Linked DNA regions of Homo sapiens: region 1 is linked to region 2. The links come from fine-mapping of genetic effects on gene expression. A gene starts in region 2. The other region holds a variant in brackets. All regions are shown on one strand. Distances are from middle to middle. Region 1 has its middle 100 kb from the start of QPCT. Region 2 holds the start of CEBPZ (CCAAT enhancer binding protein zeta).

Region 1 (8,537 bases), 210 kb after region 2:
ATTTTTGTAGAGAAGGGGTTTCATCATGTTGCCCAGGCTGCTCTTAAATTCCTGAGCTCAAGTGATTTGCCTGCCTCAACCTCCCAAAGTGCTGGGATTGCAGGTGTGAGCCACCATGCCCAGCCGGCATTACTCTTTGGTTTTTGTAACTCTTTGATGCCAGGAGAGTAACACATCTTTGAGGATGACAGAAACTTCCTACACTTATCCCTCCACATCTCTTCCTCTGGCTGGTTCTAGTTTGTCTCCTTTTGCTATAATAAAACTATAAACATTGCACTTCCTGAATTCAGTGTGTCATCCTAGTGAATTATTTAAACCTGAAGGAGTCTGTGGAGATACTCAAAATTGTAGCCAGCTGGTCTGAAATGAGTGTGGCCATGGGGATCCCCCAACTTGAGACTTGTGTCTTAAATGAGGGCAGTCTTGTGGAGGATTGTGCCCTAAGACTTTGCAATTTAGGATACTCGTTGCGGATGTCTCAGTTTAAAATCTTTAACATAAAGTATAAAAATCATAAAATGATTATTGAAAATTCTTGGGGTGGGAGATCTCTTAGTAATGTACTGTGAAAAGGGTTTAAAAGTGAAAAACTTTGTGCAATGGGCAAGTGTAACCACCACTTAGGGAAGAGCAGATTCTCAGCTCTGTAACCCAAATGTGCAGCTACAGCATCTAGATGGCTGTTTTTTGGTAGACATTCATATTATTTCAGGACTGTGCTGACCATTTGCTATTTTAGCTTATTCCTCCCTTCTTTTTTTGTAGTAGACTCTGATTTGTGTTTAGAATTTGCCCCTCTGAACTTTCCAAGCCTCCCATTCCATATATACTTCTGTTTCTTGAGCAGAAGACTACAACCAACTTTAAATCCAGTAATTATTTTGGCTTAAGCCCAATCAGCACATTTATTTCCTTTATCCACAGTGGTTGACTTATGTGGCCCATTTTGGTTCAATGAGCTGTGGAGAGATATTTTCTAAGGGTTTCTGGGAAAGAGATTTTCTTGAAATTGCAAAAAGCCTGCCTGACAAGACACTCACTTTCTGCTGGATATTAGGGAGAAAATATGTAGTTACAGAAACCCTTGGTAGCCATCTTCCAAACACAAGATAAAACCTTAAGAGGAAGAAGACGCTGCAGACGGCAGTTTGTGGTATCAATGTTGAACAGCTTATTTGAGCCAGCCCTGAGGCTTATATGACCTCTGAAATTTTCATGTACATGGGTAAATGCATTCCCTTTACTGTTCCAGTCAGTTTGGATCAGTGCTTTCTGATTCTTGTATCCAATACCTTTCTGAGACAATAACTTTAATAAGAAATATGACGATGGTTTTGATAGGGAGTAAAAATCAAGTGTAAAATAACATTCTTACAAGAGAAAAAAGGTGTGGTGCATTGGATCTATGTGTTGGTTTAGGCACATTTGACCACCTCTGGCCTTCTTCTAAGTCCCTTGAAATAAAAGGAAATATATTTGTCAAAACTAGACCCACTACTTTCATGGAAAACAAGAAAGGGCAACATCAACATATCAGAAATGGTGGGAAATTTCCTGGATGATGGAAAGTAATGGGATTGACTTGATAAGGGTTGAAAAAACACACAGAGAAAACAGCTAGGTAGATAAGAGCAGATTCTGAGAAATTTCAAGGGAACAAAGAACAGAAAGGGTCATGTGACAATAGATGGGCCATTGGTACTGAACAGGGGCCAGTTACGTTCATAAACCCTCTCACACTGAGCCACAGGTCACAGAGATGAGGGGTGGGTGATTGTCCAGGTGAAGACACCAAGATTTGCACACTAGACGGTCAACCGCTGCCTCAGCAGTGTTTCTGGTTAGGAAGTGGAAGCTTCTAGAGAGCACACTGTCAGCCCCCCTCAATTCACACCATTTGGGGTGGGAGTGAGGAAGGACCTTTGCAACTGCAAAGCTAACTAAATAAAGCTTCCCAGGTCTTCATTCATAGAGATAAATGGGAATTCTTAAAGCTTCCCAGGTCTTCATTCACAGAGATAAGTGGGAATAAATCTTCCCAGGTCTTCATTCATAGAGATAAGTGGGAATTTTAAGAATCTCAGATGCCATGTAGAAAACCAATAGCTAGAAAGAGAAGGATCAAGCTGAATGAACAGATCACTGGACCACAGAAAGAGAATATTGAGAACAAAAAGGTTACAAAAGAAGTTTATTTTCTGTCTTTGGATATAAACAACAACATTCAAAGAATCTATTCATAAAATAAGAATTGGCAGCTATAAAAAAGTAACTCAGAGTACAGAAGGGTTTTTGAAAATAAAAAATATGATTGTCAAAATAAAAAAAGTCTAATGGAAAGAATAAGTAATGGAATGAACTTAAGACTGCAATAGTGATAGGACTAAGAATAGGATTAGGTAGGCAGGAGGGATTTTTCATTTTATTCTATATTTTTCTATGTTGTTTGAATGTTTTTAAAGTAGTTGAGTAAAAAAGAAAAATTTAAAAATGGAATTGACTCAATAATTCTACTTTTGATAAGTACTTTTTAACATTAATTCTAAGGAAATCAACCCATATGCAGACAAAAATATATGTGCCACATATTTAATACATCTTTCATATTTATAATGCCAAAACATTGCAAATAATCTAAATATTAAACAGAAAAGTGACTTAATAAATTATTGAGTACACATGTTATAATACTTTATGCTACCATTAAAAATCATGTTTCAAAAAATATATCTAAATGTGAGGAAAACATACAAGATATATTAAGTGATAAAACAGAACCAAAACTATACTTCGTATATTCAAAATAGAAAGTATGTAGAACCAAGTATTCATTGTGATTATCTCTGAATGATAACAGTTTTTTCTTCTGTATTGCATAAACTGTTTATATTTAAAATCTATCACTAATTTACTTAGAAAATGCTCCTAGGAAAGAAAAAGGAAAGACTGTGATAGCAAGCAGAACATAGATGGAGTCCACATGGTCCCTTTCTGTATCTCTCTCGCTGAGGTGTATATTTCACTGAGTCTGTGAACCAGGCTGGAGAGAAACCCTAGATGAAGATTCAATTGCTTTCTGGAACAGAAGGTGTGCCTACTGTTTTGTAGTTTTGCTGATTTTGTTTTGTTTTCATTCAGAACAACATTGACATGAACCCACTCAAATGAATCATATTTATTTTAACCAACTGGTGTGGTGGGAACAAAATCTTTATATATTCATGTATGGCATGACACATACAACCCCTACACACACATACACACCCCCAAATCTACTCATGTGTTTCTTGGCCAAAAACTCTTGGGAAGTGTTATGCTTTTTTTCCAGTTTTTTAGCCTACATCTGGCAGATTGAAAAAGTATGAGTATGTACGTACAAGAGAATTTTGCAAAAATATGGCAATCTTTCTTTGCTCTAAACTTATAAAATTTTAATGAATTTGTGCATTCTTACATTCTAGGTATTTTCAGGAATTAAAGGAGATTATCCATTTATTAAAGAGGCATTTTATGTGTTTTTTAAATGAGTTACTATTTGATGTTTGCAATGCCCTGGCAACACATAGGCATTGTACTATTTCCCGCCCAAAGTTACTTGATTAGAATAATAATATTGTTTTTCCTCATAGTAGCTGTCTTCTGTCATTCTTCTTTGTAATCAATAACTAGATCACAGTAGAGAAAAAATGCTTTGAAACAGAACATTGATTTGGAACCTGTTTTTAATGTGAGAATTCAGGTCATTCAACACAGCTAGGCAGTTTTATTTTTTTTGTAAATCCATTTGATAAATTGCCACTTTATGCTTAAATAGACAAGCTTTCGTCCACTCTTCTTCAGTTTTTATGAAATCAGTTTAATGTAGTGAAAAAAAAATCAGGGGCTTTGGGTTCATACCGGCTTCAGCTGGAATTCTGGCTGTACTGTGTCCAAACTGCATGATTTGGGAAAGGTTACTTTTCTGAGCCTCAATTTATTTATCTGTACAATCAGAATAATATCAAGGATGAAGGGAATGACATTTGTAAAAGAAAATGACAAACTAGTATAGAGCTTGAATCTGAGTTGGTTAAATGTTTCTAATAATGTATACTATGCTATAACCATTGTTGTTTTCCTGTACTAGGGGCTTGGTATTCCTCTGGACTGAATTAGAAGCCAGGAGGCTTAGAGTCCAGCCTAAGTTTGGCTGTTACCTGGCTGACATGATCCTGAGCCTGTTCATCCTCATCTGTAACATGAGGAGGTTAGAGGAGATGACTAAGGCTTCTTCCAGCTCTGAATGGGGATTTTGAGTAAAAATCTTACTTTGCACCGTCACACGTGTGGCAGGTGTTATGGCCATGTCAGAGCTGAGACTGGGTTGGAATTAGCAAC[G/A]CCCTCCTTAAAGAGTCTCTGTGTTTGAGGCTGATCAGTCTTCTGTCCTAGGAAGCTGGCAGAGTGCAGGGGCTGGGGGAGGCACTTTTTTTTCAGAAGTAATTTATAAATTGATACATACTAATTATACATATTTATGGGGGTACATATGATATTTTGATACATATATACCATGTGTAATGACCAAGTCAGGGTGATTAGGATATTTGTCACCTCGAACATTTACTATTTCTTTGTGCTAGGGACACTCCAAATCTTCTAGCTATTTCAAAATACACAATAATAGTCACCCTACTGTGCTATCGAGCTCTAGAACATATTCCTTTTATTTAATTGTATTTTTGTACCTATTAACTAACCTGTTTTCATCTCACCCTCTCTCCTACCCTTCCCAGCCCCTGGTATTTATCATTCTACTCCCTACCTCCATGAGATCAACTTTTTTTTAGCTTTAACGTATGAGTGAAAACACCTGATATTTGTCTTTCTGTGCCTGCCTTATTTTACTTAACATAATGACCTTCAGTTCTATCCATGTTATTGCAAATGACAGGAGTTCATTCTTTTTTAGGTGGCTGAATAATATTCAATTGTATACATATACCATGTTTTATTTATCCATTTATTCATTGATGGACACAGGTTGGTTTTGTTTCTTAGCTATTGTGAATAGTGCTGCAATAAACATAGAAGGCAGATATGTCTTCCATATCTTGATCTCCTTTCTTTTGGATAGATACCTGGCAGTGGGATGGCTGGAAAATATGGTAGACCTGTTTTTAATTTCTTGAGGAACCTTTGTACCATGTTCCGTAATGGCTGTGCTAATTTGCAATCCCACCAATCATGTACGAGCATTCCCTTTCTCTACATCCTTGCCAGCACTTGTTATTTTCTGTCTTTTTCTTAATAGCTATTTTAACTGCAATGAGATGACATCTCATTGTGGTTTTGATTTGCCTTCTCCTGTGAGTAGTGATGTTGAGCATTTGCTCATATATATCTGTTGGGTATTCGTATGTCTTCTTTTGAGAAATGTCTATTCAGATCATTTGCTCATTTTAAAATCGGATTATTTTGGGGTTTTTTTTTTGCAACTGAATTTTTCTTAACATCTCAACTATCAGGGAATGAGACTTAACCAAATTTTCTGCTTTGCTTGGAGCCCAAGAGTCTTGTGGGAAAAACAAGAGAACTCTGTCCATTTTTGTAATTTTAATATGTACTGCACTTTCTGAGGTACTTGCGGGGCGGCGGGCGGTGGCGGGGGGGTGGGGGGGTGGTGGGTGGGTCTAAAGGAAGCCAGAATGAAGACAGAGACAAAACATTTATTTAGAAAAAAAATCTCTTTTTGTGAGGAAGAATTTTGGCAGGTTGAGCCGAACTGAGCAGCAGGGGCTAAATATTAGAGTTCAGATAGGACGTGAGGCTGTGCTTATCAACCCAACATGGCCTTTAGTCCCCAAATCCCCTTGCACAACCACCAGGCCCCCTTCCCAGCTCTGCAATGCCTGCCCACTCTATCCACTCTATGGGGAACGGGGCTTTGTACAGAGGAGAGAACCAGAGGGGTTCAGCAGCTCTGCTGTGGCAGGCTCTTCTGCAAGAGTTCTGATGAGAGGCAGCAGGTGTTGTCCAACTGGCTAGAGATGGAGAGCAGCCGAGCTACATAGCTTAGAGGAGACTACTTGGCCTGGAGGGGTTAGTGGCCTGTGGGTGATGGAGTAAAAATGGTCAACAGGGCAGGGAGGCAGAAGGCAGGTGGAGACCATATCGTATATGTGACAATCTCCACCTTTCTTTATGACTTCTAGGGGAATTGATCCAAAGACCCACCAATTGGTGGACATTTGGGTTACAGCCCTGAAAATTCTTTGAACTGGTTGGGAAAAGGAAATTCAAAAAGGTACTGGACTTCCAGCTAATAAGTAGGTGTGTGGGTATGGGTGGAGGAGGATGTCAGGGCTGGGGGTGGTTTTGTATTGACTATTTGGATCTGGGATCTTATTTGTAACCTCTCTATACTTATTGGCTACTCTCACTTTGAATGTACTGGTTGTCCCCAGTATTTAGAATCATGACTTGCTGCTGTTACCTTATAGTTTAGCTTGTCTTATGGCAAGTGCTTGATGCCTGCTGTGTGCAAAAGCCTGCACTAAGTGCTGTGGAGGACGTTGTCCTGCTCTTGGCTACTCACTGTCCACACAGTCTGGCCTCATGATCCTTCCTCTTCATGAGGAAAAGTGCTTCCTCCATCCTTGGATATTTCTCTGCAGATAACACAAGTGGTAGACTAGAACATTTCCAAAATATTATTTTTTATTGTAAAATATCATTTTATATGAGAAAAGTTAAAATTTTCATTTTAACTTTTATATGAGAAAATATAAAATGTCATTTTATATGAGAAAAGAAAACACTTTCGCTCAGAGATCATCACTGTCAATTTGATATAAATTCTTAGAGTCTCCTTTTAATGCATATTTATCTTTCAACAAACATTGAGTCAATTGCATTTACAAAATGAATCACTCTGTGTATATGGTTTTGGAACTTGCTTTTTCATGCAACAATACATTGTGAATAGTTTTCCATGGATAGACAGAAAATCATTCCTCAGCTGGGTCTTGCAAATGACCTGGAGCTTTTATTTTTGTGGATGCTCTCTTTAATTAAAACTTGAGTTCCATATATGGATCTTTTCCTTCCATCCCTAAATTTGCATATTCCAAGAAGCCCATTTGTTAAAAATTATGAACGGAAGGATTGAAGGAAGAGAAATCCTTCTTTCCATTTAAGAACCACATAAAAATGCTCTGAATGTATATTTGACATTATCATCTGCTTCACAGATTTCTTTGGCTGGTATCCATTTAAATTGTTTTACTCTGTGCCACATGGGCTCTGTGAAGCTATCAGCTGGTCTTCACTGGGGAGATGTGGCAGAAGAGAACTGAGAGGTGGTAGAAGGTGGGAGGTGGGGGCAAGGAGAGTCATTGAGAGTAACCAACACTTGTTCCTGATCCAGGGCCTGGGGTTCACGGAAATGTCAGCATCACTCTAGTGAGGACTCATGCACTGAGAAGATTTTCTTTGGAGGCAAATTTGCCTTTATCTTCAAACCAAACAAAATCGAAATGGCCAAATGCAGGCTTTTCTTTTCTGGGGGCAATGTTTTCTGCAGAATATTAATAGGCGTTAGGAACAAAAAAAGGGTTCTGTGGTAAAGCAAATTTGGAAAATGCTGTATTTTACATAAACCTGTTTCTTCAATGCAGGACTTCTCAGAAACTTTAGCATGCTAATATGCACTCTGACCAAGAGAAGGAATCTGTCAACTTTCCCCAAACTCACACACTCTCATTCTCTTGATTTTGGGTATCTGTATATTAACAACTTTGGAAAATGCCAGTCCTGGAAGTATAGACTTCTATTGATACTGAAGTCAGGAAAAACAAAAGTGGTTCCGTTTTGTATTTAGGGTTGAGATGTTAGCCTGTAACTTGTCCTTCTTGGGGTTACTTCAGTCAAAAGCTACCTTCTAATGGGAGGTGGGTGTGACAGAAGTCGTTCTTGGGGATTTTAAGTAACAAATGCTAAGCTGAAATGCTTTTCTGAGAAATCTTTGAGCAGAGCTGGTTCTTTCCTTAGACCGCTTACAAAGTTTGCAAAATAACAGGTGTTGGCTGAGAGATGAAAAGTGTGTTTATAGGTCTCAGTATTTTCCTTCTTATATCCCTCAAACCTTTCACCTTTATAAGGGCTGTCATCCTGGAATGAGACCCAGGCAGCCTTCCTTCCTGGACGCCAGCTGAAGGATCTCTAGTTGCCATCCACGCCCTGCCTCCCCTTCTTGGAGCTGGTGATTTACTGCTGTAGTCTGAACGTTGGAGAATGTTCTTAATGAGCCTTACGACTGGGGGCTGTGCTTGGAGCTGCCTCTAACCACAACTATTCTTAGTAAAAAAAAAAAAAAAAAAAATTACCAGAAAACTAAGACCCCAGAAGAGGACCTCTGATGGGATGGTGGGTGTTTGAAAAAAAGAGGCAGGGTAGCATTCCTGGTTATCCGTAAATTAAAACAAACAAAGGCATATCACATCCAACTGTAGTCAATTGCTCCTATAAGAGAAGGAGTGTAATTCAAAGAGGTTTAT
Region 2 (8,000 bases):
TGCCTCCTGTGCACCTAGAGCATGGCACCATACTGCAGGCACTCAGAAAATACTTGTTGAATGAGTTACTGTGTGAATGCATTCAACTGTGTGAAAGACAGCAGGGAAAAGATAGAGGACTGAGGAGAATGGGAAGACGGAAACTGCAATTATATCTGCAATTTTATTTCTTTAATATCCCAAAAGATTTAAAACAAATATAGCAAAATGTTAATTCTGAAATACTAGGTGGTAGATATGAATGAATCTTTTGGGTATTTTTCTGTATTTTACAACCTCTCAAAATGAAAAATGTATTCAAAGCATCTAATATAATTTGTGCCCATCAGGGAAACAAAGATTAAGTGACTTACTTGAAGGTGGCGAGTAGCAAGCTGCTGAGGGGGCCTAAAACCAAATTTTCTAACTCTTTTTCTTGCCCCACAGAGGGCACTGCTTGTGCTGTACTACATCAAGTTATTATTTCATGTCTCATATTGGAAGGGTATGTTCTTACCTGTATAATGCTGTGTAATATCGATCCGATATTGTCTGCTGAGAATTCATTACTTGGAAAAGCAACATTAAAGCCTGGACACTGGTATTAAAATTCACAATATGCAACACTTTAAACAGTGTGTCAATCTGCTCCCTTACTTTGTCATCACCAGTCTGGGAATAAGGGTATGCCCTATTCACACCTGTTAAAAGGGCGCTAAGCATTTTTGATTCAACATCTTTTTTTTTGACACAAGTCCGAAAAAAGCAAAAGTAAACAGTTATTAATTTGTTAGCCAATTCACTTTCTTCATGGGACAGAGCCATTTGATTTAAAAAGCAAATTGCATAATATTGAGCTTTGGAGCTGATATTTGAGCGGAAGAGTAGCCTTTCTACTTCACCAGACACAACTCCTTTCATATTGGGATGTTTACAAAGTAATGTCTCTAACAGATGGGATGCTTTTGTGGCAATTCTGTTCTGAGGATCTCCCAGTTTATTTACCACTTGCACAAGAAGAGCCTTTTCTTCCTCAGGCTTGTTACAAAGCAGCTCATGAGCCACGGTAAGGGCTCGAGTTTTAGTGGTTACTAATGTATCATGACTTAAAGTTTCTAAGACCTGCACAAATTCAGCCACTAAGTGTTTCAGCTGGTGTTCAAAATACCATAATATCAGTCTTCTATCTCTTGAGTCCTTGTTGCCACTGGACAACTGTTCCAGTTTGTCAAAAGGACGCTGGCTGAAAATCCTCAGCTTCCGATTGTCTGGCAAAAGGTCTGTGATAAGCAACTCTTTGAAAGTATCCAAGGCCATAAGGCACTGCTGTTTGCTGCCCTTCTTTTTAACAAGGTTCACAAGAGTTTCTACAAACTGAAGTGTGTGAACGGCATCATCCTGAATAAGAAGAATCATGGCTGCCATCCTGTCACCTAGTGTCCCCGATGACACAATTGCCTTCATCCAGGTAGAAGAGGCTCCCTTTTGACTATTCGTCTTACTTTTGAATAAGTTGATTTCATGCTGATACAGCTTCTGAGCAAGGGTTTTGTACTTAGATACAACATCCTGAGGCTGGGGTTTCAAAGAATATTCATTGCTGTACTCCAGATCATACCATTTGCCTCCAGGCCTAAGTAACAAAGTCTGTCTCTCAAAAAATTCAAAGATGTTCTGTTTATCTTTCTTTACTTTCGGTGTGGTACTGCCATTCTCATCAGAATGTGGTTCTGGCCTATTCTTATTTTTCACCTTATTAACTGATGTCCTTTGACTTTCTGCTGTATTTTTATTATTTATTTTAGGTATTTTTACTTCTTTTTTGCTGGAATTTTCTTTTTCAGCTGGTTCATCTTCTTCAACTAAGGAAGCTTTTGTATACTTCGCCAAATTAAGATTTTGAATAAATGCTTCCAATTCACCTTGCTGAAGGTCATCGATTGCTCCTTTTTTGCCTCCATCTATCACTTCCTCATTCTCATCCAAAGTAGCCAGCATAAGGTAATCTTGCTGCATTAAAAACATAAGTTAAAAATACATTACAAATGTGAAAAATAAAACCATAAAATAATAGGAAACACAACATAATTTTAAAAATAATTTCGGAACTGGAAAAATCCTTTCAAATTTGACATAAAACTCAGGGTCCACAAAGGAAAGGATAAGTAAATTTCTCTTTCTCTCTCTTTCTTTTACACACACACACACGCACACACACTTTTTATTTCGATATAGGAAAAAAATATAAATTATAAACTGGAAAAAAAATACAAGCAATTCCTATCAAAGTAATTGGGTTTAATCCCTTAATATAAGTTTCTACACATCAGTAAGTGACAACCCAAAAGAAAAATGTGCAAAGGACATGAACAGTTCATAGAAAAAAAGGGTTCTTTAAGAATATGAAAAGATGTTCAACCTCACTGAGGTTTAGACAAATCCACATTAAAACCACAATGATACATCCATCTTTTAATTTATCAGATGAGCAAAGATACACTGCAAGATGAGCAAGATACAATGACAGGTGATGCTGGGGAAGGGGTGGCGGAAACGGCACTTTCATACATGGTTGATGTGAGTGTAAACTGACACAACCTCCATGGAGGACAATTTGTCAACTCCAATCACAACTATTTAATACAAGGCACACATCTGTTGGCCCAGCAGCTTCATTTCTAAAAATTAACTAACTGATTGAGACATGGTCTCGCTCTGTTGTCCAGGCTTGAGTACAGTGGCATGACCATGGCTGAACTGCAGCCTCAACCTCCCAGGCTGAAGTGATCCTCCAACCTCAGCCTGTAGCTGGCACTACACGCCCAGCTATTTAAAAAAAAAATTTTTTTTTGAGATGAGGTCTCCTTATGTTGCCCAGGCTGGTCTCAAACTCCTGGACTCAAGGTATCCTCCCACCTCTGACTCCCAAAGTGCTGGGATTATGGGTGTGAGCCACTGTGCCTGGCTCATTTCTACAAATTTATACTACATATACACTTACAAAAGTGGGGGAAAAACACGATTAAGGTTATTAACTGTAGTATTATTTAAAATAGTGAAAGACTGGCAATAATTTAAATATTCACAATAAATGGCTGGTTAGATAAATTAAGACAGACAAAATGATTTATGCAGCCATAGCAATGACACAGAACGTTATGCACTGATATAGAAGGATTTCTAAGACAGAAAAGAAAGCAAAATGTAGAGATAGGTGTATATATATGGTACCATTTATGTAAAAAAGATACACCCGTATTTCATACACATAAATGAGTATGTATATGCTTGAAAAGGTATATAGTATCCCTGAAAGATATAAAATGCAGTTGTAAAAATAATTGCTTCCTATCAGGGCAATGGTTATGGCTGAGATAAAAGTGGAAACAATTTGACTTCACTATGTATCTTTTAAAGTTTGCACCACGTGTTTCATGTGTATATATTACCTATTCAAAACTTAAATATACACAAGCACAGAGCAAACTGTGAATCTGCCTATCTCTAACTAACTCCTCCACCTTGAAAGTCCAGTCTCCAAACAAAATAATATTAAAAACAAAGTTAATTTCTGTTCCTTATCTGCTTAAAATCTTCCAGTGGTTTTGCATCAAACTCAGAGCAAAAGCCTGCCCTCTGACCCCTCGGCCCTCCTTTCTTACTATTCTCCCCTTAACTCACTCTGCCTCTGCTACACTGGCATTTTGGCTGCTCATGGAATAGGTTAGGCACTCTTCTGCCTGTCTTTGCATTTGCTGTTCCAACTGACTGGAATGGCAGCTCACTCCTTCCTGTCCTTTAGGATTCTGCTCAAACATTTCCGTGATGTGTTTGTCGATCATCTCATTTAATACTAACGCGCTCCCACTCCTTATCGTCCTTCCTTGTTTTATTTTCTTTTATAGCACTACCCCGCGTCTGCTGTACTATGTGTTTAAAAGTTTGTTTACTGTTTCTCTCCCTTAATTAGGATGCTCCAAAAAAGAGGGCTTCTGGGGCATACAGTGACACGTGCATGTACTCTATGAGAACAGAAATGAAAATTCCAATACCACTGGTGTTCAAAACACTCATACCACAAGGTCAGGACCAAGAAAAGCCACTCTCCGACCTGATGGTGTGATGGTTATACCACGTCAATAAAATCAGAAGATCGCCTACATCCTAAGAATAGCCAGAGAATACAACGTTCAATTCGAAACTTTTCTTTTGTAAACAGCAGTGGAAACCGGCGTGGGAAGCGCACCGAACACATGCTTCAGAGGCTGGGATCTCGGTCCTGGACGCCCGCGCTCTACGCAGCGCGGAAGCGGCGGGGCAGTCAGCCTAGCCACCTTCGGAACTCTCCACGCCTGATCCCGTTCCCCGGAGCCCGCGGCCGTTACCTTGGTGCCTCCGAGCCGTAACACTTCCTCCAGGGAGAACCCATTCTCGGCTTCACTAGTATTATCCTCATCCTCCTCGTCCGGATCTTCTACTGCCTCCTCGGGGCGCCAAGGCCGCTTGGCATGGAACTCCAAAGGCTCCTTGACTGCGGCCATGGCGGGCAAAGCATACGCGCGTGAAACTCAGCCTATTTCCGCTCTGCCAGTGGCGTAATTCCTGTCGGGGCGTGTCTTCTCCCGGAAATGGTCTAAGCCCCAGCTCCTGGCGGAGCGAGCTAGCCTGCGAATTTCAGCATGAGTGTACTGCTGAGGTCAGGTTTGGGGCCGTTGTGTGCCGTGGCGCGCGCAGGTAAGCGTCAGTCCCCTCGAAGCCCGGTTGCCGTGGAAGCCGCGTGGGGCGCCTTCCTCAGCTCTTCAGTTGAGGGTACCGGGGGATCAAGGGCTCGGGGGCTCACTTCCACCTTGAAGGTACCCTGGGCTGGAAACGGGTCCGGTACAAACGCAATAGGGCTGCGTAGTCGTGGGCAAGTGGGTGCTGTCTCTGCGCCCCGTGGGCGTGCTAAGCACAGTAGCCCGCGGTCTGCGGTGGGGCGAGGTTAAGGGTTCACGAAGCTGTTTTGAAAACGCTCAGGCGGCTTGCGCTCGTGAATGGTCAGATTTATCATGGGGTCTGTTTAATTTGTGTTTTTCGCAGCCATTCCTTTTATTTGGAGAGGGAAATACTTCAGCTCCGGGAATGAGCCTGCAGAAAACCCGGTGACGCCGATGCTGCGGCATCTTATGTACAAAATAAAGTCTACTGGTCCCATCACTGTGGCCGAGTACATGAAGGAGGTGTTGACTAATCCAGCCAAGGTATGGGTCGGGTAGCCCGAGGACTAGGCCCTCTCTAGCCGATTTGCGAGGTGCAAGCCAGGAGGGAGAAGCCCGAAGGTTCTCAGCCCAGGCAGTGGGGGTGCCTGCCAGGGGAAGAGCCATTTCTGAGGACCTGGGGACAGATAATTTGTCAGTTGGTCAGGGCTGGCTCACGTCAGAGGCAGTGCCAGTAAAGAGGAGAGGACACGGTCCAAGGGTGTTTAGGAGACAGAATGTAGCTGATTGGATTTATGATGCGGGAAGGATGACTTTCCTACTTGGCTGATGGTGGGTGGTGTGGATTCATTGCTTTGGGAGAAGGAATACGGGAGGAAGGATGGAGAGTTCAGGCTGGTATATGAATTTGAAGTGTGTGGGACTCTTAGGTAGAAATCTCCAACAGGCAGCTGGAAATAGGAATTACTGCCTGGAAAGTCGTCTGTGTTGGAATGGCTTCAGCTGGCATTGGAGACATGTGCTGGGTTTTCTCACATGTGCAGTTGAGAATGCAGTCTGGGTCGTCTTCACTGTTCTAGGATTAGGCACAGTCACAGCTTTCTGACCCACGTTTCCTTGTCTGTTCTACAGAGCCATTTGGTGAAAGCCTATAGTCCTTTATTTTAGAATATTTCATCTTTTGCTGGGTTGAAATATGACCTCTGTGGAATTCTGGGGTTAGATTGGCCATTGTTGTTGGATATGGTAGTGTGACTCTAGTGTCGAGGTTTACCCAAGGCCGGTATCTTTCTTTCGATGCCGGTTAGGCAGGGCTGCAAGATAGGTGGCTTAGACTAGTGTGGTGGTACTAGAAATAGAAGAGGGTGATTTAGAAAGGGACTGACAGGATTTGCCGATGGATTGAGTGATGGAACGGAGGAATCAAGGCTGATTCGTACTTTTAGCTTGAGCAGTTGGGTGATGATGGTACCTTTTATTGAGATTAAGACAGACAGGACCAGGTTTGGAGGAGTACTAGGGAGAGGGCCTACACCAGGAGCTGCATTTTATACATATTTTGTTAGCAGTGACATGCAGGTGGAGATAGAAAGTAGGCAATTCGCTGTAAGAGTCTGGCGTTCAGGGCCGGACGTGGCGGCTCACGCCTGTAATCCCAGCACTTTGGGAGGCCAAGGCGGGTGGATCACGAGGTCAGGAGTTTGAGACCAGCCTGACCAACTTGGTGAAACCCCGTCTCTATTAAAAATACAAAAATTAGCCGGGCGTGGTGGCTTGTGCCTGTAATCCCAGCTAGTCAGGAGGCAGGAGAATCGCTTGAACCCGGGACGCAGAGGTTGCAGTGAGCCTAGATTTCGCCATTGCACTCCAGCCTGGGCAACAGAGCGAGACTCTGTCTCAAAAAAAAAAAAAAAAAAAGTGAGCCTGGTGTTCAGAAGAAAGACTGGGCAGGCATATATACATTTGCTCGTCATCAGCATATAGGTCATATTTAAAGCCAAGGAACCAGGGAGAACATACTGAGAGAAAGGAAGGTTTCCCAGCATTGAGAGTAGGGGTAACTCTAAAATGTAGAGGCTCTTAACCTAGGGACCCTTTAATAGAAATCAGGGGTTTCATGAAGCTGGATGGAAAAAATATTATACCTTTATTTTCACTAACTTTCAACTGAAATTTAGCATTTCTTCAATTATGAACATACGCAGCAACTAGTAGCATCAGCAATACCTGTGACTTTGTCATCTGTGGAAATCATTGGTATTTCCTTATCACAATACAGTGATCACAGGCATCTCAGGATTTCATCGTGCTCATCCTTACTTCAAAATTTTGTTAATTATTGGGTCTTTGGCTTGATTATGGGCTTTTTTGTTTGTTGGCTTTTTGAGATAGAGTCTCATTCTGTCACCCAGGCTGGAGTGCAGTAGTGCAATCTTGGCTCACTGCAACCTCCACCTTCAAGGTTCAAAGGATTCTTGTGCCTCAGCCTCCCGAGTAGTTGGGATTACAGGTGTATGTTTCCATGCCCAGCTAGGTTTTTTGTATTTTCAATGGAGATCGGGTTTTGCCTTGTTGGCCAGGCTGGTCTTGAACTCCTGGCCTCATATGATCCGCCTGTCTCAGCCTCCTAAAGTGTTGGGATTACAGGTGTGAGCCACTGTGCGCGGCCTAATTATATTTTTTTAATACACTAGTAAAGAAGTGTATATATCACATTTTTTAGAACATTTGATACACATTTTTCAGTTATTTCTTTGTGGTTCTGTGCATTTAAAAACACTCTGTGAAGGGGTCTATAGGCATCACTGGGCTACCACAGTGGTTCATAACACAAAAAAGCGTAAATACCCCAATAATGTTTCCTTATGAACGGAACTAGAAAGCCTAGAAGAAGAGATGTGTGGATTGAAAAAATGTTCTCAAAAATGGGAGTGACTTGATTTATTTTGAATGCTGAAGGGGGAAAGTTGAAGCTGGAAGAGAGAAGGGGACAGCTAAAAGGACTCAGGGGAGTTGTATGAGGAATGGTCCAGAGCACAGGCGGAGGGATTAGGTTTGGATGAGAGGAGAAGGGGAAGGCATTTCATTCTTGGAGTCCCCAGATTAGGTTAGAGGCCAGGTGGGGATGGGAAGCTGAGGAATTCGTATTTTATAACATTCTTTAATTCTGGAGTGAGACTGGGGCCCATGTCACCTGTAGTAAGGTGGTAGAATAGGAGCTTGAGAAGCATAAGAAATATTTAACTCAATTCTTGAGTGTTTCTTGAAGGTTAGGCATCGTGCTAAAACTTGGGATATGAAGATAAATAAGGCATGATCTTCTGC

What was found. PIP is the estimated chance that this variant, and not a neighbour inherited with it, causes the effect.
Region 1: its variant is fine-mapped to the expression of CEBPZ in esophagus muscle (GTEx, PIP 0.98).

What each region holds. Positions count from the first base shown.
Region 1 is chr2:37,441,630-37,450,166 of GRCh38, forward strand. No RefSeq gene overlaps it. Among named protein-coding and RNA genes, the nearest start is that of QPCT, 100 kb to the left of the region's middle. The variant G/A (reference allele first, on the strand shown) is at 4,381.
Region 2 is chr2:37,227,048-37,235,047 of GRCh38, forward strand. CEBPZ (CCAAT enhancer binding protein zeta) reads right to left here and starts at 4,549. Exons shown (of 16, transcript NM_005760.3): 1 at 4,365-4,549; 2 at 497-1,989. The coding sequence starts at 4,520. NDUFAF7 (NADH:ubiquinone oxidoreductase complex assembly factor 7) reads left to right here and starts at 4,611. Exons shown (of 10, transcript NM_144736.5): 1 at 4,611-4,713; 2 at 5,059-5,219. The coding sequence starts at 4,659. RefSeq lists enhancers at 3,894-5,093, 4,051-4,500.